7 separate regions of the Homo sapiens genome follow, and all the other regions are linked to region 1. Evidence: fine-mapped QTL for protein levels in blood plasma. A gene starts in region 1. Each other region holds a variant in brackets. All regions are shown on one strand. Distances are from middle to middle.

What was found. PIP is the chance, under the fine-mapping model, that this variant and not a neighbour inherited with it causes the effect. The UK Biobank Pharma Proteomics Project read protein levels with antibody pairs (Olink). The fine-mapping took linkage between variants from a reference panel, not from the people measured, so its PIPs are less certain.
Region 2: its variant is fine-mapped to the plasma level of the PTH1R protein (UK Biobank, PIP above 0.99).
Region 3: its variant is fine-mapped to the plasma level of the PTH1R protein (UK Biobank, PIP above 0.99).
Region 4: its variant is fine-mapped to the plasma level of the PTH1R protein (UK Biobank, PIP above 0.99).
Region 5: its variant is fine-mapped to the plasma level of the PTH1R protein (UK Biobank, PIP above 0.99).
Region 6: its variant is fine-mapped to the plasma level of the PTH1R protein (UK Biobank, PIP 0.98).
Region 7: its variant is fine-mapped to the plasma level of the PTH1R protein (UK Biobank, PIP above 0.99).

Annotation. Positions count from the first base shown.
Region 1 is chr3:46,875,351-46,879,651 of GRCh38, forward strand. It overlaps PTH1R (parathyroid hormone 1 receptor), which reads left to right and starts at 2,371. Exons shown (of 16, transcript NM_000316.3): 1 at 2,371-2,493. It also overlaps a transcript of MYL3 not described here.
Region 2 is chr3:47,474,140-47,478,440 of GRCh38, forward strand. It overlaps SCAP (SREBF chaperone), which reads right to left and starts at 1,802. Exons shown (of 23, transcript NM_012235.4): 1 at 1,660-1,802. It overlaps LOC105377073 (a long non-coding RNA gene), which reads left to right and starts at 1,806. Exons shown (of 3, transcript XR_940821.3): 1 at 1,806-2,225; 2 at 2,503-2,563. RefSeq lists a silencer at 1,350-1,889. The variant C/T (reference allele first, on the strand shown) is at 2,632.
Region 3 is chr3:48,124,674-48,128,974 of GRCh38, forward strand. No RefSeq gene overlaps it. Among named protein-coding and RNA genes, the nearest start is that of CDC25A, 62 kb to the right of the region's middle. The variant G/A (reference allele first, on the strand shown) is at 1,810.
Region 4 is chr3:47,461,331-47,465,631 of GRCh38, forward strand. The region is part of intron 1 of SCAP (SREBF chaperone); the gene reads right to left. Among named protein-coding and RNA genes, the nearest start is that of SCAP, 12 kb to the right of the region's middle. The variant A/C (reference allele first, on the strand shown) is at 2,418.
Region 5 is chr3:46,760,136-46,764,436 of GRCh38, forward strand. No RefSeq gene overlaps it. Among named protein-coding and RNA genes, the nearest start is that of PRSS50, 44 kb to the left of the region's middle. The variant G/A (reference allele first, on the strand shown) is at 2,610.
Region 6 is chr3:48,623,042-48,627,342 of GRCh38, forward strand. It overlaps SLC26A6 (solute carrier family 26 member 6), which reads right to left. Exons shown (of 21, transcript NM_022911.3): 18 at 3,835-4,014; 19 at 3,590-3,644; 20 at 3,177-3,313; 21 at 2,682-2,959. The coding sequence ends at 2,945. Among named protein-coding and RNA genes, the nearest start is that of TMEM89, 3.4 kb to the left of the region's middle. The variant C/T (reference allele first, on the strand shown) is at 2,242.
Region 7 is chr3:46,945,436-46,949,736 of GRCh38, forward strand. All of the region lies in intron 1 of CCDC12 (coiled-coil domain containing 12), which reads right to left. Among named protein-coding and RNA genes, the nearest start is that of CCDC12, 29 kb to the right of the region's middle. RefSeq lists a silencer at 2,804-3,098. The variant G/A (reference allele first, on the strand shown) is at 2,284.

The DNA of each region.
Region 1 (4,301 bases):
CTCCAGTGGGATGCAAGCCCATGCCCACACTGCCAGGGAGTGGACTGTCAACAACCCAAGGCCAGGTATGCAGCCTCAGCAAGGACATCAGCTCCGCTTTGGACACAGCAGTCTCAGCCTTGCCTTGAGGGTCATGCAATTTGAGGACATGCCCTCAGGAGCCTAGTCTGAGGAGACACCCTTCTGGGGCCTGATCTAAGAGAAATCAGTTTTGATGGCCTCGTGGCCATGGAAGGAACCCTTCAACCTCCACCACCTCCCTGGATTTCCCAACTGCTCCACAATGTGCATGGGGCAAGAACTGTTACGACGCTGCAAATACCTGGAAACTCAGGCGAGTCTCAGGCTCCCACCCACCATCCCACTTATGCCTCACTCATGCCCCACCTGCTGCCCACAGCTCCCAGCAGGTCTGGGGGCGGCATCCAGCCTTGGCATCCAGGCGTTCTGAACCTCAGGGAGCCCCAAAGGGTTTATGGGTCTCCCAATGAATGGGAGCCTGTTGAGCTCGGAGGGGGCCGGGCCCGAGTAAACATGGCTGGGTCTGAGCTGCCATTCTCCCCCTACCTCTTCCCCAGAACCCAGGACCAAAATACAACTTCCTGTCCCCGGAGCTGAGGGCCAGACTTGCCCCCCAGAGCCCTGGGCTGGGGCCCACAGGAGGAACGCAAACTGGCAGGCCCAAGGCTCGAGGAGAGAAAGGCCTTCAGGTTTTCAGACTCCCAGGTCTGCTTGCATCCAAGACCCAAGTGCCTGGGCACTTTACAGATCCCCTTTGAGCCTGAAACTGCCCAACTGTTAACAACAGATCAGGAAACTGAGGCCATGAGCAGGAAGGCGTCTGGCTCAGGGATCCACAGGTCAAAGCAGAAAAGGCCCCAGCCTCCTGCTTCCCTGGCCAGTGAGGATGGGGCCTGTGGGCAGGGTAGGGCAGTGCATGTGGACTCAGGGGAGGTAGAGGCTCTGGCAGTCAAGAGCCAGGGCAACAGGGAGGCTTGACAGAGCACAGGGGAACTCTCCCTCCTTTGGGCACAACTGCCCACTGACCTCCGCTGGCCTGGTCACAGAATAGCCTACGTGTCCCAGGATACCCCTTGGAGCAGTGCACTTCAGAGTAGCTGGGGCAGGAGTCCCATAAGTGCTGTTTGTCATAGTTTCACTATGTCCCCTGGCCAGTCCATTCTGCTCTTTGGTCCCGTTTCCTCCACCTGGAGGCCAGGTATCACCGAGCCTGCCTCCCTGACTAACTTGTGAAACAAAAAGTACTTTGGAAACTCTAATGAGTGGTACCCTCCCCAGGAGCCTGGAAGACCCAGGGAGGGGGGCCCTAGGAATGTGCCCAATGGCTGGGGGTGGTTGGGGCCAGCTGCCTCACATGCAGGGCACTGGGGGCTACAGCTGGAATGTGCTGAGTGGCAGCTGCCACGTGAATCATTATACCTCATCAGGCTGAGCCTAGGACTTCCAGACACAAACCAGCTCAGACTGGGCTCAGGCAGAAGGGCAGCCTCCAGCCGGGTCACAGGGCCTGGGGGTGAGGTTTCTGGGATCTTGCAGGGTCTCTGCCTCCCTGTCTGCCCACATCTTCATCCTGAGCAACCAGCCCTGGTTCTGAACACAGCTCGTTCTACAGACCCACAGAGAGAAGTCATCCTGTCCACAGCCCCCTGCCTTTGAGACCTGTGACAGCTTAAGCAGACCCTGGGCCTGGAAGGGCCTGGGAGGCAGATAGGGAGGGCTTCCTGGCTGACTCCTCACCAGGAGCCCACATTCCAGTGGGCAAGGAGTCAGATATGAGGTGGCTGTGGGGCTGTAGGGGTCAGGACACGGGCTGGAGTGGAATGACGGCCCCCTCCATCTCTTCCGTCTAGGAGCCACTGGGTACCCAGTGCTGGCAGATCAGGCTTTCTTGGGCCTCAGTTTTCCTGCCTGTGACACAGGCAAGAACCACCTCCAGCCCCCCTCTGATTTCTCTGGGTGCCTTAAACTTGAGTGAAGTCACTAGTAGGGGCTGTGTTCATACCTCGTGGCAGCCTGATATTCCTGAGATGTGGAAAGGACCAGAGGGTTAGACAGGGACACAGAGACTAAGAGAGAGGCATGGCAGGGCAAGGAGAGGACTATTGAGGCACACACACGTGTCTGGCAGCCTGAGTGGGCCCAGTTACCTGGCAGGCAGACCCATGGGTGCTGAGGGGAGGGCCCAGCCCTGGGCATCTGAACACCGGCACACTTGGATCTGCCTCTGTTGCCTCCTACTCCTGACTAGGAGCCTGGGACAAAGTCCTGGGCCAGTGTAGGGCTTGGTAAAAAATAATTAATTTTCTTTTCAAGTGGAAGCTCTGACTCAGGTCTTTTCTTGTCCCCAGCAGCACTATCCTTGCTTAGGCCTGAGCCACAGAAGCTGCTCAGGGACTATCCATGGCCTCCCCGTGGCCAACTTGAGTCTGCTCTGCAGCTTTAGGCCCGACTTGGAAGGCCCATGGGCTGCAGGTGAGTGGGGGCCAGGGGAGCCTAGGGGCCTGAGCACAGCTGGGAAGCCCAAGTCTGTGGTTTCCCTGGGGGTGAGTGTCTAAATACCTGGGCCGTGCTATGGGGCAGACAAGACATGCCCGCATGGAGACACATCTGTGGACCTGGTGTTATGACAGCAGGGGGCTTGTAACCATGAGGCCAGCAGGGACAGAAAGCCCATACCTCTAGCTCCTTGGGAGCCTTAGGAGTGCTCCCTGGTTGGGACAGAGCCTGCTGGCCCCAGGTGCCCCCATCGCCCCTCCCTTCACCTTCCTGAGAGGCAAGAAAGCCAGGCAGCCATGCTTCTGCTGCAAGGGAAGGGGGCTACCCAGCCAGCTGCCATGGGAGCCTCCAGCGACTCAGCTGGGTGTCAGGGGGTGTTTATGAGCAGCCGAAATGGCTGTAAAAGTGGCACCTCGCTTCACTTATGGCCTAGCCATCCCCTCCCCTACTGGGCTCTTGCCTCAAAAAGTTTCCAGAGGGGCCTAGAAGCCGAGAGAGGTCTGGGGTTGAGGGCTGGGTGGAGGCACAACCTGGGGTCAGAGTTCAGCCAGGGGCTAGAAATCAGACTGGGATAAGAACTCAGCCTGAGGCTGGGGCTCATGATGGAGATAGAGCTCAGTCTGGGATCAGGGCTAAGCTTGGATGCAGCCTGACTTTGGGGCTAGTGTTGGGATGAAGCACTGGGGAAATATAAGGACTCAGAAATAGATGTGAGCCATTAGTCCCAGAGAACCCCTGGTCTGGCCAAGGGGTTTTCTGAGGGAGGAAGGCCAGGCTGCATTGCTCAGACAGCTGAGCCTCTTGCCTTGCTTGTTGGTGTCTGATGCCCACCCTGGCCCCAGGGTCTGTGTACCTTGGCCAGAGCCCTACTCACGGTGGGATGGCTGCAGCAGAGGCCTGTCAGCCTGGGGCTGCCACACCAGCAGGGGTGGGGCCAGAGTCTGGCCCCTACTGCAGTTCTGAGATCCAGTGACCACCCTGGCTCCTCCTCCTAGGCCCCAGCCTGGGGATTAGAGACAGGGACTCACTCCTACTCCCCACCCCCAGCCAGGCCTTTTCAAACCCCATTGAAACTAACACTGACCTGACACTAACCAGAAACTGACTCTGAGCCCCTGGGGCGTGCTTGTCAAAAAGGGCAAGCTGACTCTGCCAGGTGCTTGGGTGCTACCAGTTAATGTGTGACACCCCCACCCTCATGGTAGCACTTTAACCAGAGGCCCGAGGGTGAGAGAGATGATCTGTGGCCCCACCCACAGCTGTGGAATGTCCAGCAGGGGACTCTGGGGTGAGGCACATGAGTTATGGCAGGAGGAATGCCCTTAAGGGACCCAGCACCCATCAGATTCCTCTCTGCAGCCCTCTCCACAGCCCACCCTCATCCTCCCAAGTACAAGTAGTATGTTTCCAAATCTCAAGTTTTCCCTGGTGTCAGATCTGAAAAGAACTCCTCCCCTCAGCCTCTAGTTTTATCTCTCAGTCCTTCCAATCCCTCCATTAATGTTCTTTTCTCATCACCAAGGGGGAAAGCAGGGTGGAAGATCAGTGGTCACAGAACCATAAAACTTAGAGACACTTAGAAACAGAGGCATAGGCCAGGTGCGGTGGTTCATGCCTGTAATCCCAGCACTTTGGGAGGCCGAGGCAGGAGGACTGCTTGAGCCCAAGAGTTGGAGACCAGTCTAGGCAACAAAGTGAGACCTCGTCTCTACAAAAAAAAAATTTTTTAATTACCCAGGTGTGGTAGCTCATGCCTGTGGTGCCAGCTACATGAGAGGCTGAGG
Region 2 (4,301 bases), 600 kb after region 1:
CTGTAGTCCCAGCTACTTGGGAGGCTGAGGCAGGAGAATCGCTTGAACCCGGCAGGCGGAGGGTGCAGTGAGCCGAGATGGCGCCACTGCACTCCAGCCTGGGCGACAGAGCGAGACTCCATCTCAAAAAAAAAAAGAAAGAAAGAAAAGAGAGAGCATTCAAACATCAGATCAGTTCATAATAAATTTAAAAAGCCTAATTCTTTCCATTTCAATTTATGACCAAAAGAATAAATATGGAAATATATTTATACAGTGTTAAATATATTTATATAGTGTTTTTTACATCATGTGCTCAGTGGGAATACTGCAAATGTGTAAAACACCTAAAATGTAAACTATATTAACACACATTTTAAAAGATACAGGTCTTGGCCGGGCACGGTGGTTCACGCCTGTAATACCAACACTTTGGGAGGCCAAGGCTTGTATAATGCTTGAGCCCAGGAGTTAAAGACCAGCCTGGGCAACACAGCAAGACCCCCATCTCTACAAAAAAATACAAAAATTAGCCGGGCGTGGTGGCACACACCTGCTGTCCCAGCTACTGGGGAGGCTGAGGTGGGAGGATCACCTGAGCCCAGGAAATCAAGGCTGCAGTGAGCCGAGATCGCGCCACTGCACTCCAGCCTGGGAGACAGAGTGAGACCCTGTCTCCAAACAAACAAACAAAAAACAAGTCTTTAGGCATCACTGAGGAACACCTAAAATGGATACAGCACTAACTAGACACCCTCGACCCTGACTCCCTAATAAAAGCGTCAGTCTTTTGCTCAATATCCTGACCTGACAGCAAACCAATAAAGACACGGCATAACCAAACTCCACAAATTTTTGGCCAAATAAAAGAAACACACGCAACGCTAACATTAAACCTTTTCTATGGCCGCTTCACGATAAGTATTACAAAATCCCCAGAAAGAGTTTATTCACCTAGCTCCGACTGTCGCCATACAAGGTGGAGCAGTGAGTGACCCGAACCAGGGGCTGACCCCTGCCAGAGCCCCCACAGCGACTCACTGCCCCCCCCTCCGCATTCCCATCTGCACAACTTTCTGTGATTCAAACAGTCCGGAGCCAGGGCTCCCTGCAACTAACGCTATCGTGACATTATAAGCCGGTTAAATACTGAGGTCATAAACCCACTCAGAAGTAAACAGAAGCAACATTAGTGAGCAAAGTTGAGGTTTAAGCAATACGGAAAACTAGAAACCAAGCAAAACCAGCAAAGCAACTAGCGTTGTCTCTCAATAAGATCTTCCAAAAGAGGCAAAGTGGAGAACCTGCTCTCCCCCGCACTCCGGAAAACCCAAACAGCACCAAAGCAGGTTCTACAACAGCTTCCCGGAGCAACTAGGCCAGGGGATGCGACGCCGCGCATCTCCCCCCGTCACACCAGGGGCCCGCGGAGGTCTGGTGGGGACGCGGAGCTCCAGGGGCCGGCCGGTGCAGGGACACGGCCGGGTTGGGGGTGGGGACGCGCGGCCCTGCCTCCTTGCCGGCCTGCGGTCTCCAGGGCCGGCCCGCACGGCTGCTGGACAGCGCCATGCCCACGCACCCCCGAACCTAGCGGCCCCCATTCCGGAACTCCCAGCTCCACGCGGCTGGGGTCGAGCTGGGGCCCGCGGGCAGGCGCCCTGAGCACCCGCGTGACGGTACCTGTGGTGGCAGCACCTCCCAAGCTGCGGCGGCGGCGGCGGCGGCGACGGGGGCGGCAGCAGGGGCGGAGCGCGGCGTGCGCGCTCTCGGCCCGCAGTCCGGTGCGTGGCGCCCTCCCTCTCTCTCCTGGCCGCCGGGTGCCCGCCCCTTCACCTCTCACCTCCTACCTTTACCCTCCCGCCCCGCCGCCCTCCGCACGTGCGCCCAGCGGCGTGCGCATGCGTAGTCGAACCACATTCGCGTCTCCCGTTCGCCCTCTGGTGGACACCGGAGGGAAGTATGGACGGCCGGGCCGGGCCGGGCCGGGCGGAGCGTGAAGCCGGGTTAGGGCCCGCCGGGTTTGGGCCCACCGGCTCTCATCGGTCATCAAGAACTTGCAGAAAGCCGGGCACGGTGGCTCGCGGTTGTAATCCCAACACTGTGGGAGTCCAAGGCGCGAAGATCGCTTGAGCCGAGGAGTTAGAGACCAACTTGGGCAACGTAGGAGACCTCCGTCTCCACAAGTAAAATTAATTAGCCGGCTGTGGTGGCGCGCACCTGTGGTCCCAGCTACTCAGGAGGCTGAGGTAGGAGGATCACCTGAGCCCGGGAGGTCGAGGCCACAGTGAGACAAAAAACAAAAAACCCACCCTGCACAAGATGCTCATGTTCCCTGTTTTATAATGGCAAAAAATTAGAAGCAGCTGGGCCGAGATACACTGCAAATGCAGATGAGAAGAATAAATAATGTCCATAAAACTAGTTTCCCTATAGACATTTAAAAGCATAAGTTGACATTTAACCATTTTCCACAGGGAACAGGTATTTGTTATAATAGCAACAGCTACGTTCACTGTTTACTAGGTGTCAGTTGCGGAGCTGGTATTGTACATGTCCTCGCATTTGGCCCTCCTGAAAATCCGAGGTAGGTCTTGTTACAGGGCCTCACAGAAGGGGAAGGGGAGGCTGCCTCCCCTCGAGGGAAACACAGGT[C/T]CCCACCTGCCCAGCTCTGGCCCAACTAGAGACGCTGCCCGGACCACTCTGGGGGGACTTTGATCATGCTACTGCATGCCCTTGCTGTACCCAGGTCTTGTGTCAGAGGTAAGCCTCCCCTCAGCCCCTGCCTACTGCCCGAGACACCCGCACCCACCCCAGGGCTACCTGGATAAGGCAGGCCCTGTACCTGCCCTCAAAGGCACCAGCAAACTTCTCTGGGAGTTCCAGAAAGTGCAGATCTAGTCACCAATGCAAGGCAGAAATTAGAGGTGGCCCTTCTGACCGCACCAGCCCCCGACCCACTACACATTCTTCAGATACCTCCTCCTAAAACCCAGTTCCCACCGGACTCTGGCCTCCCTCCTTGCCCACCACACTATTGTCACAATGAAAGTAACAATGGGGACAGTGGGCCTTGGCCCAAAGTGACTTTCAGGGTTATGACATTTTCAGCATTGTCTTTTGGCTTAATATGGGAATTTTGATCCTATAAAGAAAGTATTCGCTGGGCGCGGTGGCTCACGCCTGTAATCCCAGCACTTTGGGAGGCCAACACGGGCAGATCATGAGGTCAGGAGATCGAAACCATCCTGGCTAACACGGTGGAACCCCATCTCTACTAAAAATACAAAACAAACAAAAAAAAAATTAGCCGGGCGTGGTGGCAGGTGCCTGTAGTCCCAGCTACTCGGGAGGCTGAAGCAGGAGAATGGCATGAACCCGGGGGGCAGAGCTTGCAGTGAGCCGAGATCATGCCACTGCACTCCAGCTTGGGCGACAGAGCGAGACTCCGTCTCAAAAAAAAAAAGAAAAAAAAAAAGAAAGAAAGAATTTTTTAGGTTATTTTTATTTTTACATTTGAGGTCTCACTCCTTTACCCAGGCTGGAGTGCAGTGGTGTGGTCATAGCTCACTGCAGCCTCAACCTCCTGGGCTCAAGTGATCCTCCCAAGAAGGTAGGACTACAGATGAGCGCCACCATGCCATTTTTGTTTTTGTTATTTTTATCAAGATGGGGTCTTTTGCTGTGTTGCCCAGGCTGGTCTCAAACTCCTGGGCTCAAGCAGCCTTCCCATGTTGGCCTCCCAAACTGCTAGGATTACAGGCATGAGCCACCGTGCCCATCCTGTTTGTTGTATTAAATGAGAGAGAAGCAACAATAGAGAGCATTCAGGGGAACTTACCTACACCCCTTACCTATCCTGACATCACTCTCTCCAGGTCTGATCCCTTGAAATACCATCATTTGTCCCCTCAGAAACCTTGGGCATGAAGGAGTCCTCCTGAGCCCTGGGCCCACTGTACCAAAGTCTTCTCTCCAGAGAGGGTCAGGAGCCTGTCTTTTAACCACCTCCATGGCAGGACTTAGCCAGACTGCCTTGGGAACTGCTGTCATTCTCCTCACTCACCACCTCTTCCCACCCAACCACTCCATCAAAGCTGTGTTTGCAGAGGACTGACCCTCAGTGAAGTCTGGACACTCCCCCACAAAAAATAAGAGGCTCCAAAACTGACAAGCACCTAGCTAAGTACCTTTGTGCCTTGAAGCATGGCAAACAATCCTCCACTGCCCTAAGAGAACCCACTGAGAATCCTGTGGAGCCTCTGGGGAAGCTGGGGTTTATGGGGCCCTGGTAAATCTGCTACAGAATGCCCCCCATGGAATAT
Region 3 (4,301 bases), 1.2 Mb after region 1:
AAAAATGTGTTGCTTTTTTTTTTTTTTTTTTCTGAGACAGAGTTTTACTCTTGTTGCCCAAGCTGGGGTGCAATGGCATGATCTCGGCTCACTGCAACCTCTGCCTCCCGGGTTCAAGCGATTCTCCTGCCTCAGCCTCCTGAGTAGCTGGGATTACAGGCATGCGCCACCACGCCCAGCTATTTTTTTGTATTTTTAGTAGAAATGGGGTTTCTCCATGTTAGCCAACTGGTCTTGAACCCCTGACGTCAGGTAATCTGCCCACCTCAGCCTCCCAAAGTGCTGGGATTACAGGCATGAGCCACCGCACCGGGCCTAAAATTTGTTGCTTTGGTCAGTGGTTCAGTTTGGCTGGAGTGTAGGGAGCTTGGAGAGGGACAATGGGCAGAAGGAAAATCTTAGTTATTCATTGCCTCACAACAAATTACCTCAAATCTTCGCGGCTTACTACAACAATAAACATTGATTATCTCTCACAGTTTCTGCAGATCAGGAATTTGGGAATGGCTTGGCTGGGCGGTTCTGGCTTGAAATCTCAAGAATTTCAATCGCATTTGGATAGGGCTGCATCATCTGAGGGCTTGGCTGAGGCCAGGGGATTCCCTTTCAAGGTCGCTTACTCACAGGGCTGGCAAGTTGATGCTGGCTTTGGCAGGAGATCCCGCTTCTTCACCAGGTGGGCTCCTCCACAGGGCTGCTTCAGGGTCCTTATGATGTGGAGATTGACTTCCTCTAGAGTGAGTGGTGGGCATGGAGGCATGCACCTGCGGTCCCAGCTACATGGGAGGCTGAAGCATGTAGTGAGTGATCCAAGAGTCAGGATGTAGGAGGGAGCTGTAACCTCTTCACAGCCAAGCCTTTGAAGTCACTTCTATAGCATCACTTCTGCTACATTCTGTGCACTAGAAGCGAGTCATTTAAGTCTGACCCACTTTCAAGGGAAAGGGAATCAGCCTCCACCTTGGAAAGGGGAAATAGCAGAGAATTTGCAGGCATATTTTAAATCACCACAGACCATGAGGGCAAGAAGGTTTATCTGCTCAGAACTCAGGGGCTCTTCAGCTGAGTGGGACTCCAAGGGATCCAGCTTTCTGTGGGGATCCAGCAGTCCTGCCCTAGTGCCATGTATCCAAGGGACTGTGGGCTTCTGGCAGCAAAACCAAGAACCAAGGCAAGACCCAGTGCTGCCTGCTGTTGAGAAATCTGAAGTGGCTCAGACCAGGGCAGGGGGTGCTCACTGTCTGGCAAGCACATAGCAAGAGGACATGAGCCCTTTTCCCCCAAGAGAGTCAGGGAAGGCCTCCTGGGGGTGGCATCTGAGCTGCATTATTTCAGAGCTTTTATTAGGCCCATAGTGTGGGGCTGGGTGTATACACAGAAGGTTAAATGCGCCTGGTATGGTGCTCAGCAGGCATCAGAAGCCACGCAGGAGAGCTGAGGCCTGGGGAGACCCCCCACTGACCATAGCAGCAGATACTGTCTCTGCCCTGCAGATGGTGAGACCTTTCTAATGCCACTTGGTGTTGGCATACAGCTTTTCAGATGGGTGTGGACTGTCCCACAAGAACTCTGTGAGCTCTGTGGGGCGGCTAAAGTGCGCTGGAGATTGTACATGTAAACTTTGTTTGCTCATTTCCCCATTCAAATGTCCTTCAACATTGTTGGGGTCTTCTCCCACTTTCTGCCCCTACTTCTCTGAATGTGCTTACCCTATATGGGCCTGTTTACCTCTCTGCTTCTTCTTTTTTTTTTTTTTTTGAGATGGAGTTTCGCTCTCGTTGCCCAGGCTGGAGTGCAATGGTGCGATTC[G/A]GCTCACCACAACCTCAGCCTCCCAGGTTCAAGCAATTGTCCTGCCTCAGCCTCCTGAGTAGCTGGGATTACAGGTGCACACCACCACGCCCAGCTGATTTTTTGTATTTTAGTAAAAACAGGATTTCTCCATGTTGGTCAGGTTGGTCTCAAACTCCCGACCTCAGGTGATCCGCCTGCCTTGGCCTCCCAAAGTGCTGGCATTACAGGTGTGAGCCACTGCGCCCGACCCTTTTTTTTTTTTTTAAATGGACTTTCACTCTTGTTGCCCAGGTGGGAGTGCAATGGTGCGATCTTGGCTCACTGCAACCTCCGCGTCCTTGGTTCAAGCGATTCTTCTGCCTCAGCCTCCCAAGTAGCTGGGATTACAGGTGTTTGCCACCATGCACCTGGCCATTGAACTTTCTTTATCTAGGTACTACACATCTCCCCAGAACCAGAGAACAGCAATGATGTCAGTGGGAAATCCCAGGCAATTGGCACTAATGTCTACGGTGTAAACACCTACAGAGTGTAGTGGTTAAAATTAATGTATATGTAGTTAAGGCTGGGCAAGGTGGCTCACGCCTATAATCCTAGCACTTTGGGGGGCTGAGGTGGGAGGATCACCTGAGGTCAGGAGTTTGAGACCAGGCTGGCCAACATGGTGAAACCCCGTCTCTACTAAAAATACAAAAATTAGCCAGGATTGGTAGTGCATGCCTGTAATCCCACCTACTTGGGAGGCTGAGGCAGGAAAACCGCTTAAACCTGGGAGGTGGAGGTTGCAGTGAGCTGAGATCGCACCACTGCACTCCAGCCTGGGTGATACAGTGAGACTCCATCTCAAAAAAAAAAAAATTAATATATATGTAGTTAAAATTAATTGAGTTGTATACATATTACCTTTCACTGTATATAAATTATTCCTTTATTAAGCAAAGCAAATAATATTAGTAACCCTGTACCTGATGCTCATCATAAGAGAGACCCACACGTGTGCTAAGTAAATGAATCAAATCACATTACCCAACAGACCTCATCCTGTCTAAGACTCAGTAGGGGGTAGGGTTTCAAAGAAGTAAAGAGTGGCACTTTTTGAAGTGCCAGCTTGTCTTTCTGGAGTCCCTCAGTGTTAGCGTTTAAATGCAAGCATTAAGCCCTCTCAATACTTTTTGTTCACTTCTCTAAAATTTTGGTAGGCTGGGCATGGTGGCTCACACCTGTAATCCCAGCGCTATGGGAGGCACAGATGGGAAGATCACTGAAGGCCAGGAGTTTGAGACCAAACGAGGTCCCATCTTTAAGGAAACAAAAATTTTTTTTTTAATTAGCCAGGATTGGTGGCATGCACATGTAGCCCCAGCTACTGGGGAGGCTGAGGCAGGAGGATCACTTGAGACCAGGAGTTCGAGGCTACAGGGAGCCATGATTGTACCACTGCACTCCAGACTGGGTGATAGAGCAAGACCCTGTCTCAAAAAAAAAAAAAAGATAAGTAGGCCTGGAACAGTGGCTCACACCTGTAATCCCAGCACTTTGGGGGGCTGAGGCAGGCCAATTCCATGAATCCAGGAGTTCAGGACCAGCCTGGGCAACATAGCAAGACCCCTTGGCCGGGCATGGTGGCTCACGCCTATAATCCTAATACTTTGGGAGACTGAGGTGGGCGGATCACCTGAGCTCAAGAATTCAAGACCAGCCTGGCCAACATGTGAAACCCCATCTCTACTAAAAATACAAAAATTAGCCAGACTTGGTGGTGGGCACCTGTAATCCCAGCTGCTCAGGAGGCTGAGGCAGGAGAATCGCTTGAACCTGGGAGGTGGAGGTTGCAGTGAGCCAAGATTGCGCCATTGCACTCCAGCGTGGGCAACAAGAGTGAAACTCCATCTCAAAAAAACAAAAAAACAAACAAACAAAAAATCATAGCAAGACCTCATCTCAAAAAAAAAAAAAGGGAGAGAGAAGGCCTATGGCCTTTGGTCAGCACCCTTTCTTGGCCTGGAACGTCCAGCACAAGGGGCAAGTGGGTCAGAAGAGATGAGCTCAGGGCTGGGTGCGGTGGCTCGTGCCTGTACTCTCACCACTTTGGGAGGCTGAGGCAGGCAGATCACCTGAGGCCAGGAGTTTGAGAACAGCCTGGCCAGTGTAGTGAAACCCAGTGTCTACTGAAAATACAAAACTTACCTGGGCTTGGTGGCGCATGCCTGTAATCCCAGCTACTTGGGAGGCTGAGGCAGGAGAATGACTTGAACCTGGGAGGTGGAGGTTGCAGTGAGCCGAGATCCCGCCACTGCACTCTAGCCTGTGTGACTCTGTCTCAAAAAAAAGAAAAAAAGAAAAAAAGAAGAGACGAACTCAGGGCACATGAGACCATAGCTAGGAGCACACATCTACCTTCTGCATTACAACAGGCTACTCCCCTCCCTGTCCAAACAATCTGGGTGAAAGCCACCTCCAAGCATTTCTCCTGGCATGCATCACCACCCCAGAACCTGCCCAGAGATCAG
Region 4 (4,301 bases), 590 kb after region 1:
TGCTGTAAGTTTTAATTGCTTCTTTTTCATATCTATAATCTGGTACTAAGTAAAACTTTCCAGCTAACAGGACAACTGTGGACTGTGATATGCACTGGGACCACACAATTCTTCCAAATGTTCACAGTCACTTCTCAGACTGGAACTTGCTTGCCTTCCAGACATTTATAGAGACAAAGGAACAGAAAGCTACCAGATTTCAGAGCTAGGAGAGATGGGATCCTCCAGCACAATATCCTATTGGTAAGGAAGAAACTGAGGCTTAGGGAAGGTCATGCCAGATGACCCAGGTCATGTAGCAAATGACAACAATCAACACTCTGGTTCCAACTCCCAGCCCGGGGAACATTTCCATGACAGAGTTGATTCCCCAGCACCTCCCAACAAAATAATGTGTTTTAACCTATGTAAGAGCAGTCTAGGCCGGGCACGGTGGCTCACTCTTATAATCCTAGGACTCTCGGAGGCCGAGGCAAACAGATCACTTCAGGTCAGGAGTTTGAGACCAGCGTGAGCAACACGGTGAAACCCTATCTCTACTAAAAATACAAAAATTAGCCGAGCATGGTGACAGGCACCTATAATCCCAGCTACTTGGGAGGCTGAGACAGGAGAATCACTTAAACCCAGGAGGCAAAGGTTGCAGTGAGCTGAGATCACACTGCTGTACTCCAGCCTGGGCGACAGAGTGAGACTCCATCTCAAAAAAAAGCAATCTAGCATTCAGATTTAAATGTTTACTATAATCAGTGACAAAGTATTCTACTTCGTTTTGTGGTAAAAAAAAATTATTAACATAAACATCATTTTAACCCCTTTTAAGTGTACAGTTCAGTGGTATTAAGTACATTCATATTGTTGTGCAGCCATCACCACCATCCATCTTTTTTATCTTCCTAAACTGAAACCTTTTGTCTTAGCTAGGAGATCAACTTTTTCTTTTAACAAGTTTACTATATAACTTGTCAAAGGTTTTTCTGTAAAACAGTCATCTGACAGCCTCTGCCCCATCAGCTATACAACCTCTGCCCCATCGGCTATCTGTGTAGTAAAGGCACACGCAGTGAAGCCTCCATTCTTTCAATCTAAGGACCTGCCTGCTTGAAGACAGACTGTAAAACACCTTCATGGATGAGTTATGACTTATGATCAAACACCATCAGAGGCAGCCACTGAAAGGGCTGACCATAAAGACACTATGCTGAAATGAGAAACGCCTACAACCATCCTGGCTAACACGGTGAAACCCCGTCTCTACTAAAAATACAAAAAATTAGCCGGGCGTGGTGGCACATGCCTGTAATCCCAGCTACTCAGGAGGCTGAGGCAGGAGAATCGCTTGAACCTGAGAGGCGGAGGTTGCAGTGAGCCAAGATCGCGCCATTGCACCCCAGACTGGGCAATAAGAGCGAAACTCCGTCTCAAAAAAAAAAAAAAAAAAAAAGAAAGAAAGAAAGGAAAACACCTACTTATTTCCTAGTTGTGAGTGACATCATGTCCCTACTGATGTCCTAGAAGGTTGTGCTTCTCAGCCTCCCTTCCTGCTTCCCCATAGGCTTTGTTCCTGGCCTGCTTTCCTCATCTACCCTTTCTCCCCAGGGCTTCTCAGCCTGACTCCTGGCTCCAATTCTCATCTGTTTGCTGATGTCTCTTACATACACACCTCTCAAGCCTCTCCCCTAAGCTCCTTATTTACACTATTTCCACTTGGTATCTCCACTCAAATGCCTAATAAGCACTTCAAATCTAACAAGACCAAAAACAGAATTCTTGATTTCCCCACAGTAGCTGTTCTTTCCCAGCCATCTCAGTTAATTATACCACTAGCTACCCTGTTTATTCCTCCGGCGGAAAGTTTAGGAAACATCCTACAACAAGCCCACATCTGAAACAGCTGGTTACAACAGTTTTACCTCCAAGTCAGATCCCCAACCTGACCAACAATCATCATCTCCCTGGCTACTCTCCCATCACTGACCATGGGGACAGCAGGAATGCCTCTATTCATTCCTGCCTCATTCCATCCTCGATAAATCTTTCTAAAGCACAAATCACTAATGTCACTACCCTGCTCAAAACACTCCAGTGGGCCGGGGTGCGGTGGCTCGTGCCTGTAATCCCAGCACTTTGGGAGGCAGAGGCAGGCGGATCACTTGAGGTCAGGAGTTTGAGACCAGCCTGGCCAACATAGTGAAACCTTGTGTCTACTAAAAATACAAAAATTAGCTGGGTGTGGTAGTGCCTGTAATCCCAGCTACATGGGAAACTGAGGCACGAGAATAACTTGAACCCAGGAGTCAGAGGTTGCAGTGAGCTGAGAATGCATGACTGCACTCGAGCCTGGCAGCCTAAGTGACAAAGTGAGACTGTCCCTAAAAAAAAAACTAAAATTAAAAATTAAAAGAAAACAGGGGCTT[A/C]GCCTTGTTCACTGCTGAATCCCCAGAACTTTAACAGTGTCTGACACCTAGGAAGAATTCAATAAGCATCTGTTGACTTCTAAGTTTTTTGGTTTTTTGTTTTATTTTTGAGATAGGGTCTTGCTCTGTCACCCAGGCTGGATACAGTTGTACAATCGTGGCTCACTGCGGTCTCAACCTCCCAAGTGATCCTCCCATCTCAGCCTCTCACACTGCTGGGACTACAGGCATGAGCCACCACATCTGGCTAATTTATTTTATTTTATTTTTTAATATTTATTTATTTGAGACAGAGTCTCGCTCTGTCACCCAGGCTGGAGTACAGTGGCATGATCTCAGCTCACTGCAACCTCCGCCTCCCAGGTTCAAGCAATTCTCCTGCCTTAGCCTCCTGAGTAGCTGGGATTACAGGCGCTTCCCACTAAGCCTGGCTAATTTTTCTATTTTTAGTAGAGACGGGGTTTCACCATGTTAGTCAGGCTGGTCTTGAACTCCTGATCTCAGGTGATCCGCCTGCCTCGGCCTCTCAAAGTGCTGGGATTACAGGCGTGAGCCACTGCACCAGGCTTTTTTTATTTTTTGTAGAGATGAGGGTCTCACTATGTTGCCCAGGCTGGGACTGATTTGTGTTTTTTTTTTTAAAGTAGATATTAAACATACATCTCAGATGACAAGTGGAATTTATTCCCAAAGTGCAAGGATGGTTTAACAAAAATCAATTAAGGTAATATGCCACATTACTAGAATGAAGGAGAAAAACAATGATCATCCCAACTGATGCAGAAAAAGCATTTAACAAAATTCAAGATAACTTTTTGATTAAAAAATACTCAATGAAATAGGAATAGAAGGCAATATCCTCAACATAATAAAGGGGTATATATGAAAATCTCACAGCTTACATCACACTTGATGGTGAAAGACTAAAAGCTTTTCCCCTAAAATCAGGAACAAGACAAGGATGCCACTTCTATTTAATCCAGTACTGAAAAGTTTTAGCCAGAGAAATTAAGCAAGAACCTTCTCACTGCCTCATTTACCCTTTCTCTCCAGGCATCTCAACTGGACAGGAAGTAGTAAAATTATTTCCGTTCCTAGATGACATGATCTTACATGTAGAAAACCCTAAAGATTACACACACACACAGCTAATAAATGAATTCAACAAAGTTGTAGGATGCAAAATGAACATGCAAAAATCAGTTGCATTTCTATTGTTCACTGACAGTGAACAATCTAAAAACAAAATTAGGAAAACATTCCATTTATAATAGCATCAAAAAGAATAAAATACTTAGGAATAAATTTAAGCAAGGGAGACAAAAGACATAAACTGAAACATTGCTGAAACAAATTAAAGACGTAAAATAAAGGGAAAGAAATCCCACTTTCCCACTTTCATGGATTGGAAGATGATATTCTTTTTTTTTTTTCTTTTTTTTAGACAGAGTCTTGCTCTGTCACCCAGGCTGGAGTGCAGTGGCACAATCTCGGTTCACTGCAATCTCCGCCTCCCAGGTTCAAGCGATTCTCCTGTATCAGCCTCCTGAGTAACTGGGATTACAGGTGTATGCCACCACACCTGGATAATTTTTGTATTGTTAGTAGAGACAGGGTTTCACCATGTTGGCCAGGCTGGGAAGACAATATTCTTTAAATGACAACGTTATCCAAAGCTATCTACAAACGCAATCCATATCAAAATGCAATGCAATCCCTATCAAAATTCTAACAGCTGGCCAGGCACGGTGGCCCATGCCTGTAAACCCAGCACTTTGGGAGGTCAAGTGGGGAGGACTGCTTGAGCCCTGGAGTCCTCAAGACCAGCCTGGGCAACACAGTGAGACTCCATCTCTACAAAAAATTTTTTAATTAGCCAGGCAC
Region 5 (4,301 bases), 120 kb before region 1:
GAAAAAGAAGCATGAAGCTCTCATGAGAAGCAGATGCTGGCACCATGCTTCTTTACAGCCTAGAGAACCATGAGCCAAATAAACCTCTTTTTCTTATAAATTATCCAGCCTCAGGTATTCCTTTATAGCAACACAAATACTCCCCCTTGAGTATTAAACTGAGTATTGGTCAGTGCATGTCTGTGAGGAAACGACCTGAAGCTAGAGAAATAACCACTGAAAAGAATTAGAAGTAACAATGCCTGGTGCTCACACAGGGCCAAGAATAGAGCCTGCTTCCATTAGTTGGACAAAGAAACTCAAGATTCACAGAGCACTGGGTAGAGTATCCAGGAAGGTCTTGCCTCAGCAATGGGGAATAATTAGGCCTAGACTGAGAATTGTCCTGCTTAAAAAATCTTAAAAGCAAGATCTGAAAAGATCAAACAGTTTCCAAGTAATTTAAATGCATCCCCAAACAAAGCTCAAGAATATTTATGAGAATATGAAAATATCAAACAGCCAACAAGGTAAAAGTCACTATGTCCAGTATCCAATCAAAGAATACCCAACATGCAAGAAGCATGAAAATACAACTGATTATGAGGGGAATCATCAATTAATCTTATCCTCTCCAAACTGACACAGATGTTAAATGCACAGGCAAGGGCATTAAAACAGTCATTATAACTTTAAGTTATACATATACATATATATTCAAAAAGTTCAGGAGAGATATCTAAGATGAAAAATGACCCAAATCAAACTTCTAAAAATGAAAACTACCATGTATGTCAGAAACACACTCACGGGATTAGTAACATATTAAACTTTGTGGAAGAAAAGATTAGTAAACTTGAAAACCTAACAATTAAAAAAAATTTGACCGGGCGCAGTGGCCCATGCCTGTAATCCCAGCACTTTGGGAGGCCGAGGAGGGCAGATCACCTGAGGCTGGGAGTTCCAGACCAGCCTGACCAACACAAAAATTAGCCAGGCATGGTGGTGCATGCCTGTAACCCCAGCTACTCGGGAGGCTGAGTCAGGAGAATTGCTTGAACCCAGGAGGCAGAGGTTGCGGTGAGCCGAGATTGCGCCGTTGCACTCCAGCCTGGGCAACAAGAGGGAAACTGCATCTCAAAAAAGAAAAAAAAAATTCAAAATGAAACAGAGAGTGTTAAAAGAAAAAAAGAGAGAGAGAGAGAGAACATCAGTGAGCTGTGTCCTAATGTGTGAGTATTTGGACAAAAATATTTAAAGAAATAATGTTCAAACGTTTTTAATTTGATAAAAACTATAAGCCCACAAATCTAGTAAGCTCAATGAACACCAAAGAAAGAAACATGAAGAAAACTAAACCAGGCCAGGAGTGGTGGCTCACGCCTGTAATCCCAGCACATTGGGAGGCTGACGTGGGCAGATCACCTGAGGTCAAGCGTTTGAGAACAGCCTGGCCAACATGGTGAAAGTCTGTCTCTATTAAAAACATGAAAACTAGCTGGATGTGGTGGCATGCACCTGTAGTTCCAGCTACTTGGGAGGCTGAAGCAGGAGAATTGCTTAAACCCGGGAGGCGGAGGTTGCAGTGTGCCAAGATCGCGCCACTGCACTCCAGCTTGGACAACAGAGAGAGACTCCATCGAAAAAAAAAGTATATATATGTGTGTGTGTATATATATATATATATAACAAGTATGTGTGTGTGTGTGTGTGTGTGTGTGTGTGTAAAACTAAACCAAAGCACAACTTAATCAACTTGCTTAAAACCAGTGATAAAGTAAGTACAGAAGAATAAAGATAAGGATGACAGTAGATTTCTCATCAGAAGCTGTACAAGCAGGAAGACAGATAAGCACCATTTTTTAAGTGCTAGAAGAAAAAAACTTCTAGAATTTTATTTCAAAAATGAAGGCAAAATACAGATTTTTTTCAGGCATGCATAAGATGAAAGACTATCACCAGCAGATCTGCACTATAAAAAAGTTAAAGTCATTCAGACAGAAGGAACACTAAACCAGACGTAAATCTGGATTTACATAAAGAAATGAAGAGTGCTGGGAAAGACAACTGCACGGGAAATATGTAAGATACTTTTCTTTTATGTAAATATCTTTGAAAGATAATTGAATTGACTATTTAAACAAAAATAACAATGTACAGTGAGGTTTGTAACACGTATGCAAGAAGATGTATGACAGTAGCACAAAGATCGGGAGAGAGAGAAATATAAATACATTGTGTGTGTGTGTGTGTGTGTGTGTGTGTGTGTGTGTGTGTGTGTGTGTGTGTGTGGTTGGGGTTTTTTTTGCGTTTTTTGTTTGTTTGTTTTTGTGTTTTTTTTTTGAGACAGAGTTTCGCTCTTGTTGCCCAGGCTGGAGTGCAATGGCACAATCTCGGCTCACTGCAACCTCCGCCTCCCGGGTTCAAGCAATTCTTCTGCTTCAACCTCCCGAGTAGCTGGGATTACAGGTGCCCACCACCATGCCCGGCTAATTTTTTGTATTTTAGTAGAGACGGGGTTTCACCAGGTTGGCCAGGCTGACCTCAGGTGATCCACTGCTTCGGCCTCCCAAAGTGCTGGGATTACAGGCGTGAGCCACTGCGCCTGGGAAATATGTTGTTTTCAACCT[G/A]AGAAAGCTAATTGAAAAAAAAGAAAAAGAAAAAGAAAGAAAAAAGAAATATGTCATAAGTTTTTTATCCTAAACGTGAAGTGGTATAGTATCACATTCAGCTGCAAGAGCTACAAAGTTCTCCAGGATAACAGCACAAAGAGAAGACCAAAAGCCAAGTGGAGGAGGCAAAAACAAGGTATTACTGACAGACTTTTAAATCTCTGGTGCCCATAGCCACAAAAAAATTCAACTCTGGTAGCTACAACAACAAATTAAAGCACAGCCCACTCCCGATTAGAGTATCACAAATCTCCGTAATAACCACCAAGCAGAAGGAAGCCTGTGTTTTTCTCCAAGCATAGAAAATATTTATATTAGTTATCTCCTGATACAGTAACAGAAATGGAGAATGTCTAACTTTCAACAAAAATTACAAGGCAAATCACAAGGCAAAAAAAAAAAACACAGTCTAAGAAAAAGCAATAATCAGTACTAGACTCAGATATGACATAGATGTTGGAACTGTATGTATATTTAGGAAAGACCTGAGAAGACCCTAATCTCTCACCTCCAGCTAGCCTTCTGACATGTCTATGCATGTCAGAAATGAAAACTAAGAATGCTAGGGCAAACTGAAGTGTTGTAGACATGCCCCAACAAACAGAGCTCCTTAGCACAGGCTGGAAAATTTGTTGATTTAAGGCACTTAAGAAAATCTCTAATTATTAGCTGAGCACTAAAGCTAACAAGCAGAGATTTCATGGCCATATATGACAAAGAAGAGGCTTACAGAGTTAGTTTAGAAAAGTCACTAACCAAACAAACAGCAGCAGCAACAACAAATAGCAACAATAACAAAACAAAACAATAACAAAACCTGAGGAAGGTGAGAATGTGATTCCCATACTTACAACATATAGTATTTAAACTGTTTCTGTTAAAAAAATTATGTAACATGCAAAGAAACAAAAAAATATGGCCTGTACCAAGGGTGGGAAAACAGGGAAAAAAAGTCAAAAGAAACTGCCACTAGGAAGCCCAGAAGTTGAACTTACTAGACAAACAATTTAAGTAAGCTATTTTAAATGTGTTTGAGGAACTAAAGTATGCTGTCTACAGAAGTAAGGAAAGTATGAAAATGCCATCTCGCAAAATAAAAATATTACCAAAGAGAAATGATTTTTTTAAATAGAAAATCTAGAGTTGGAAATTACAAACACTGAAATGAAAATTCACAGGAGGAGCTCAGAAGTAAACATGAGCTGGCAGAAGAATCAGTGAACTTAAAGATAGGTCACTTGAGATTATCTACTCTGGAAGACAGAAAAGTAAAATAATGATGAAAAATAAACAGGGCCTCAAAAACCTGTGGGACTCCATTAAGTATGTCAACATACATATAATGGAAGTTCTGTGCAAAGAGGAGAGAAAGGGGGAAGAAAAGATATCTAAAGAAATAATTGCCTACCATGTCTCAAATTTGATGAAAAACATGAATCTACACATCAATGAATTCCAAATAAAATAAACTTGAAAATATGCACATTTCAAAATTTTATAAGCAAAGAGTTGCAAGACAATGACAAAGAGAGACTCTTCAAAGCAGCAACAAGGAAGCAATGCATTACATACACGGAATCCCCAATAAGATTATGAGCTGACTTCTCATCAGAAAGTATGGAGTCTGAAGGCAGTTGGGTGACACATTTA
Region 6 (4,301 bases), 1.7 Mb after region 1:
ATCAGGAAATTGAGACCATCCTGGCTAACATGGTGAAACCCCGTCTCTACTAAAAATACAAAAAAAAAAAAAAATTAGCTGGGCGTGCTGGCACACCCCTGTAGTCCCAGCTACTTGGGAAGCTGAGGCAGGAGAATCACTTAAACCCGGGAGGCAGAGTTTGCAGTGAGTTGAGATCATGTCACTGCACTCTGGCCTGGGCGACAGAGCGAGACTCCATCTCAAAATACAAACAAACAAAAACTAGCTGGGGCTGGGTGCGGTGGCTCACCCCTGTAATCCCAACACTTTGGGAGGCCAAGGCAGGAGGATCACTTGAGGTCAGGAGTTCAAAACCAGCCTGGCCAATATGGTGAAACTTCGTCTCTACAAAAATACAAAAATTAGCTGGACATGATGGTGGGTGCCTGTAATCCCAGCTATTCAGGAGGCTGAGGTGGGAGAATCACTTGGACCCAGGAGGTGGAGGTTGCAGTGAGCCAAGATCGTACCATTGCACTCCAGCCTGGGCGACAGAGCGAGACTCCGTCTTGGGTGGGGGGAGGTGGGGGAACTAGCTGGGTGTGGTGGCATGTACCTGTAGTCCCAGCTACTTAGGAGGCTGAGGCAGGAAGATCGCTTGAGCCCAGGAGGTCAATGCTGTAGTGAGTGGTGATCACAGCACTGCACTCCAGCCCGGGGAACAGAGCAAGAGCCGATTTAAAAAGAAAAAAAAAAAAAATCCACACGGCCCCTAAAACCTTTTGCTTTCCACCAGGGGCATCACCTCTCTAGGCTGACCAAACTCGCAGGTCCCCCACACCCAACCGCAGCCCCACAGTCCACATCGCAGTTGGGTGAGTGCTCAAAGATGTGGGATCAAAATCCACAGGCAGCTCCCCCGCTGTCAGAACAAAGCCCAAAGTCTCCCCCTGGACTGTGAGGTCCCCCCACCCTCTCACCTCAGCTCATGCTGCCCCTGCCTCCCACAGGCCTGCCTCAATACCCCCACTGCCAGCACCACAGCTCCCCAGGCCTAGAAAGTCACCTTCTTTCTTATGGCTGGAATTTCAGTTCCAGGGTCACCTGCTGAGTCCCCCTCCCATGAGCATCTTGGGTAACATATGACCTCTTCTATCACGTGACCCTGCTTTATTTTCTTCAAAGCATTTCTAACTACCTGCAATTTCCTGTTTGAGGTCTAAACTGCCCTCTCCAACATATAAGCTTCATTCAAACAATATTTACTGAGCAGCTGCCAGGCACCATTTCTGATGCTAGGACGTGGTGTGACAGAGTAAATAAAAGCTCTTATTTCCTGGGGCTGAACTTCTAGGCCATGAGTTGGGGGGTGGGGGGTGATGGTGCCAGGCACCAATACAGACCATGATAAAACAGAGCCAGGCAAGGGTACCTCTGCGATTTGAAGGGCAGGGTGGCCTCTGTCCATGCTCAGGATGGTGCCCAGACCCCTGCACAGAGCCTGGCACCTGCTCAGCACCTGATGAACAGCAGTGCTCGCATGTTTGGAGGAGAGGACCTGAGCCCAGCATTGTTTTCGCATTTCCTGGCATTTCCTCATTTATTTTTGAGACAGGGTCTTGCTCTGTCACACGAGCTGGAGTGCAGCTCCCTCCAGCATGATTTCAGCTCACTGCAACCTCCGCCTCTTGGGTTCAATTGATCCTCCCACCTCAGCCTTCCCAGTAGCTGGGATTACAGGCGTCCAGCACCATGCCCAGCTCATTTTTGTATTTTTAGTAGAGATGGGGTTTCACCTGCCTCGGGCCTCCCAAAGTGCTGGGATTATAGGCCCGGCATCTACTCATTTAATATTCACTGAGCAACCCCTGAAGCAAGAATTGTAGCCACTCACGCTCTACCGATGAACAGCACACTGAGGCCCAGACAGATCCTAAGACCCGGTCCCTCCCCTGCCATCACTGTCAGCTGACCCAACGCCCCACTGCCTGCTGGGTCACATGCCCAGATGTCGGCATTTAATGGCAGAAATCAACACACACTCCTTGGCTGACAGTGTTCTACCATGCCCAGGTGATCTGTCACCCATGCGGGGCATGATCTGGGCTCATTGCAACCTCTGCCTCCCAAGTTCAAGCGATTCTCATGCCTCAGCTTCCCGAGTAGCTGGGATTACAGGCATGTATCACCACGCCCGACTAACTTTTGTATTTTTAGTAGAGGTGGGATTTCACCATGTTGGCCAGGATGTTCTTGAACTCCTGATGTCAAGTGATCCAC[C/T]TGCCTCTGCTTCCCAAAGTGCTGGGATTACAGGTGTGAACCACCGTGCCCGGCCCGGTCATGCTTATTCTTAAGCATAGAGCAGCAGTGTGGGGGAACAGCTGCTCCTAGGTGTTCACTCTGTATCCTCCAGGGACTGCCCATTGGCACCCACGCTGCCCTGTACCTTCTCGGGTATTCCTGAGAGCAAATTATTCCTGAGAAGCAGCTCTGGTTCCAACTGTTTCACATCTGAGGAGACAGCGAGTGAGGGCTATGCATGGCTGGGGAGAGACCTTAACAGGGGATGCCTCCACAGCTCCCCTGCTCTGTACCCTAACCTCCCGAGTCCTTCCTACACCTTCTGCCCCGTCTCACCTTCAGGGCACAGGAAGGGTCAGCAGCCACAGCTGTGGACCACCCACCACCAGGGCCCCACCAAGCCACAGCAGAGACTGGAGTTGAGCAGACAAATCTTTATTCCTGAGGCTAAAATATGCACCAGTTCCCTCCCTGTACCGCGCCACTGCCAGCCTGACTGCATGCAGGCCCTGTCCCAGACCTGGAGCGCTGAACTTGGAGTCCCAGGACCTCCTTCCCTGAGTTGTGTGTGTGTACATGGAGGGGACTCCTGGGTAGCACCTGGAGGCGGCCTAGGGGTGAGGGGCTTCTCAAGGGTGCCCTGCACCTCCAGAGGTGCAGTCTTGGGCAGGATGTAGCATGTTCAGAGTCTGGTGACCTGAGCAGGCAGAGGAGGGGAGGCTCTAGTCAGTTTCCAAAGGACACAGACCAACCCCCGCCCCTAGAACAGCTTTATCCAAAGACAGCGGAGAAAGCACTGGGCCCACTGGGGACAGAGCCATGGCCACCAGGAAAGACTCCCTGGAGCTGGGGCCAGGGTGGGGACAAGCAATAGATTAACAAAAAAGAGCTTGGCAGGCCAGAGGTAGGCTCACCGAAACAGGGCTGTCGGGGACAGGCCTCGGGTGTTGGAGGGCAAAGGTGACAGCATCATGGACAGAGGCAAAGAGATGCTTCTTGGTGATGGATGCATCGAAGAAGTGCCCAGCCTCAAGCTGGCTGACCACAGGGCCTGTGGGCAAGAAGTAGGCCTCCCCTGACTCTCAGAACCTCTAGGAACTCAACTCCCGGGAGCCAACAGAATGCCCTGACCTCATCACCCCTGACCTCCACCCCTGAGGCTACAGCTGAATCCACATCACTTGTAACCCTGGACTCCTGTCTCCCAGGACACCTCTGACCTCCAGTTCCAGAGAAAGACTTTTTCCTTGTGCTACTTGGAAAACCCCTTGGCCAAAAGTATCCTACCCTCTTCCCAGGTCCCTCCTGCTGTTCCCACCCTACTCACTGTGGCAGGCCGCCATGTACACCTCCACCTCAATCTCCCGGAAGTCATGGAAAATCTGTAGCGGAAAAGGGGGCCAGCCTCAGAGGGAGGCTCAGGGACTCAGAGGGGGGCTCGGGCAGGCTTGGGGAGGGAGTTTAGAAGGGGAGCTTTGAGGGTTTGGGGAGTCAGAGGCTGGGAGTGCTCTCAGGGCAAATTACAGGGTCAGTGTGGAAGCTCGAGGGGCCTTGGCCTGCCCCCGTCCTTACATTCTTCAGGCTCTTGAGGCACACAGTGTCCACAAAGGAGAGGGCACCCAGGTCCAGGATGAGGCTGTGGAAGTCTGGCTGAGGCAGGCCCAGGGCCTTCAGTGTGGACCCATCTGGGGCCTTGGAGTCTTCTTGACCATTGGCTGTTGCATCTTCCATCTTATCTCCTGAGCTCACCTGCTGGGGAGCCAGACATGCTGCCAGGGCCACCCATGAGAGAGTGAAGGCAGGACTGGCCGCACACAGACACGCGAGAACACGCAAGGTCAGATGGGGAGCATGCATGGGACACATAAGGACACAAACATGCGGGAGTCACATAGGTGTGCAAAGACAGGAATGACAGATGTGTGGGGACATGCAGGAGGGCACACCCAGATGTGCATATACTGCTCTGCTACCTCCTGGGCCGACGCTGCACAGGGACACGAGAAGGGAGTCCCTGTCCCATTCTCATCAGCCAGGGC
Region 7 (4,301 bases), 70 kb after region 1:
CACCTCCTCCCAGAGCCTTCAGCAGGAAGAAGCCTTTGAGGCAGGATTTCAGGGGGTCTCAAATACAGCCCTGCTCAGGACAGAGTCTGACTGACCTGTTTCCTAATGTTTGAAATCCTTTTTATCAGGGACAAAACTGTTACAAATAAAATTAGAGCTGTGCAAAGTTGGTATTGTTTCTTCCTTAAATGTTCAACAAGACTTCAGTGAAGCAATCTTGGCCTGAAGTTTTATTTGGGAAAATATTTGTTATAGGACTGTATAGATTTTCTATTTCTTCTCCAGCCAGTGTTATTAATTTATGTCTTTCAAGATGTCTGTTTCACCTAAGTTATTGAATTTACTGGCACAAAGTGACTTATATTGTTCTCTTAATAGCCTAATGTCTGTAAGATCTGTAGTGATGTTCACTGATATTGATAATTTGTGTCATTTTTCTTTATCAGACCAGCTAGAGGTTTATCAATTTTGGGACGTGCCTCCATCTCATCTCCTCAGACTCGGTGTTTCAACAATGGCTTTGCTCCTCAGTCACCTCTCTCTGGAAGGATCCCTCAATGGATGAGTACACCTGCCTCTGGATGGCACATGAAGCGTGGGGGCAGAATCAATCCACATTGCTGTCTGAATGTAGTACCACTGCTAGAAGCAGGTCAATCAACAACCAGGCCTACAGGAGGAGGGAGGAAGAAGAGAGGCTGCTCTATGTCCTCCTCTTGCCCCTTCCCACCCACAGTAAGATGAAGATCTCTTTCCTTGCACCCCTCAGTCTCCTTTGTGGGCCAGGTCTACCTTGGGCACAAAGATAAAGTAAGAACCCTATCGTCAAGAATCTCAAGTCTACTCAAAGGATCAGACTTAGAAAATGTAACTCTGTGCCATGAGTAGTAAGGAAAGCTTTACTAAATATCTTGTACACTTAGGGAATTAGCAAGGGATAGGTGTTGTCGGGGAAGGAAGTAATGCTTAAACTCAATTCTAAATGTCCACTGGGGGATTATGAGGCAGCTAAAGAAGGCAGAGCATTCCTGGGAGTGGTAACTGCCTACAAAGACATGAGAGCGGAGCAAGAGCACTGTCACAGCCTGCAGAGCAGGCCCACATGGCTGGCCCAGCCTCACCTGATGCTGTCAGGGGCAGGGCTCACAGGGCATTCCTCCAGCACCGTGGGAGGGCTGAGCCCAGCATGAGGGCCGACACCCTGAACGGGCACTGTGGTAGCCTACAAGATGTGTCATGGGAGGAACGGGGAAGACCAGAAGTCAGGTGAGATCCTCCACTCCCAGCCTGGACCTGCCCCAGCCTGCTGCTGTCTGTGTGTCTGTGTTTGGGAGGGGGGTTAAAGTTAAAATGAGGGCTGGGAACTGTCACTGGGGGCGGGTGTGCCGAAGCAGGAGGACTTGAGTTCAGGGGATGAGGAATAAGCCCCTCCCTCTCCCTAAGACTTCCCAAGGACTCAAACTTTTAGGAGCTGCTGACTAGAGCTCTCCCTTCCAGAAGGAAATAAGAGAAGCAGGAAAGGGTTAAGAGAGAGACATTCAACTTCTCATCTAGGGTCTTCCCACCCTTCTTTAGCTTCCTGAAGAAGCTAGAGACTCACCAGGAACTCATGGGTACAGAAACACTTTCCAATCCCCAGGTGATATGCCCCATTAGCTCTGAGTACGCCTGCTATAATGTCCATGGGAAACTGCCCTCTGTTCAAAAGTTAAAGAGAAAATAAGACCTCGAAATCCTAGCCCCCTAAGAAGAGGCCAAACTGGCCCCACTTTGAGCCTTTCCAGTTCTGATTTGGGCCCAGGGTGGGGAAAAAAGCAAAAGAGATGGGCACATAGTGCCTGAAGGTGACAGGAAGAGACAGACAATGCTGGGGCAAACTTGGCAGGCTCCCCAGTGTCACCTTGTGCCCATCCTCAGGGCCACTGCAGCCCCATGCCGGGGTGGAGGGACTTCCTGTCGGGTGCTGCCGTGGTGGGAGCTGTGTTCCAAGGGCACTTAGCGGGTAGGGCAGTCACCCGGAGTCTGACTCACCCTGAAGATGGAGTGATAAGAAGTGAGCTGAACACCACCATGCCTGGGACCAGAAACTGCACAGATCTCTACTGCCCAGAGACTGGCAGGGGGAAAGGGGGAGAGACTCTGCTTCTCCTGGGCAGGCTGAGATCTCGTCAGGCTGCAGAGCTCCTCACTCTGGGTCCCCTGCACTCAATGTGCTGCTAGGATGACTTGGTCCGAGTATCCACTCTATCTGCTGACCAGACCAAGAGTTCCTAGAGGGCAGAC[G/A]TTTGTTGTACCAGTTTGCACCCACAGGCCTGACACCAACTACAGCAGGCACAGCACTGTGGTAGAGGAGTGCACAGGAGCGGGGAAATCCCAGCTCCATTTCATCTTGGCTGTGTGACCTTGGGCAAGTTATATGACCTGTCTGGCCTCAGTTTCCTCATCTACAAAAATGAGGATAATCATACTGACATCATATCACCATTACAAGGAAATGATGAAGGAGAAAAGCCTGCAGCTTAGGGAGCCTGAAGAACAGGGAGAATCAGGCCAGGGCAGGAAGGAAAGGGCTGCAGAAAAGCCAGCGGGGCACAGGCCCAGAACGGTGTGCCTCTGCAGAGGTCATGGGAAGCTCCCATGCCCATCATCCTTATCAGATGTTCTCAGCAATCCTGTAAGCAGACAGGGCAGTGTTGTAATACCTGCTTCACCAAGACATTAGGAGATGACGTCAGATGATCTGTGCAGTGTAGACAGATCTGATTCCCCATTCAGTGCTTCACCAAGAGTCAGCAGGAACAGGTGGTGACTACCATCCAAGAGGCTGGGATTAGCTAAGAGCCACTGCTCTCCTGTGGGTTCATGTGTTCCCTAAAGGCTTCTGAGCAGAGCAAGAACAAAGCGCTGAGCGGGAGGCTGGGAGAACAGCGAGGCTAGAGATAAGGACTGGAGATAAGGACGGGAACTAGGTCAACAGCGGTGGACTAGAACAAGGAGGTGCCTCAACGCTGTGGGGAGACAGGGAGGAGCAGAAACAACTGAGGTTCTGCTGGTGACTCACTGGGGGAAGGAAGGCGCCTTTGACAAAAAGGTGGTGGCACTTAGGGGACAAAGAGAAAGGGTGTGGCAGCCTTCAGGCATTCTAACGGTGAGGCTTGACACCCAAGGCCTGACGAAGGTTGGTGCCAAGGGATAGCACCTGTCAAGGTGCCCTCAGCGGTGGAAAGGAGGGCCCGCTCCACTCAGAAGAGAGGCACGCTGGGCCCCACCATCCATATGGCACCTCAAGGGCCAGGCCACGGCATGCCTAGTGCAGCTCCTCGCCAGGCCCGTCACACGGCCCTGCCCAGATATCCTCCATGTGTCTGTCAGGAGTGTGGGGAGCCAGCCCAAGTCAACTCTGATCCTATTCTTGCTGCAAGTGCTCAAGGGAGGCACTACAGAGCTCCTCCAGCAGACTTTATCAGTCGACAAATACTGACTGGCTCCCCTGTGGTACTCCATGCTGTACTCAGATACTCCATGCTGGGTACTGAGGAGGAAGAGGAACGAGTAGGCACCTAGTGCCCACAGAGCAGGGCAGGGGTTCTTATCCTCGGTGCACAGATTCCAGAGGTCAATGACCAGACAGAAACACAGGCGAGTGTGAGAAGGTGAATCTTAGTGGATGAGAAATCTGGAGCTCTTCAGATTCTCAAGGGGGTGGTGACCCACAGGGGAAAAGGGAAGGTGTCAACAGCCAGGGAAGGCAGTGTTTTTTTGGGTGGCATTAAGAGGTGTCTACAGAGGCTTTCCAAAGGAAGTGTCACCTTAAAGGATGAGTGACAGTGGGGACAGAGGGACGGAGGGGGAAGAGAGCAGAGGGAACAACCAGAACCATTAGTATGCAAAAGGCCCCTCCCACTGCCCTGAGACTTCACCCACACTGGCCCCAGCAGGAAATAACCTCTTGAAAGGTCACACAGAGGGCAGGGCAAAGACCAGTCTCTTCCCCTTCCTTCATATGCAGCCAGACTGGACGAGTTCCTCTGGGAAGTCTGGCCTGGCTCCAAACTCCCTCCAGGGTCCTCCCTGTAGGGGCACTGTGGTATGCAGGAAGCCCAGCCTGCAGCCCTGGACTGGGCAGGTGGTGGGAACATCAGGACACACTGCTTACCAGTGGTGGGACCTCCCTGAGGCTCTGTCTCCTCCCCTGTCAAAGTGGGGCTGGCACTACTTTAACAGGGGCATGTGAGGATTATACAAGGCAACTTGGGTCCACCATGTGGTACAGGGTCCCGCATGACCCTGCACCATGAAAA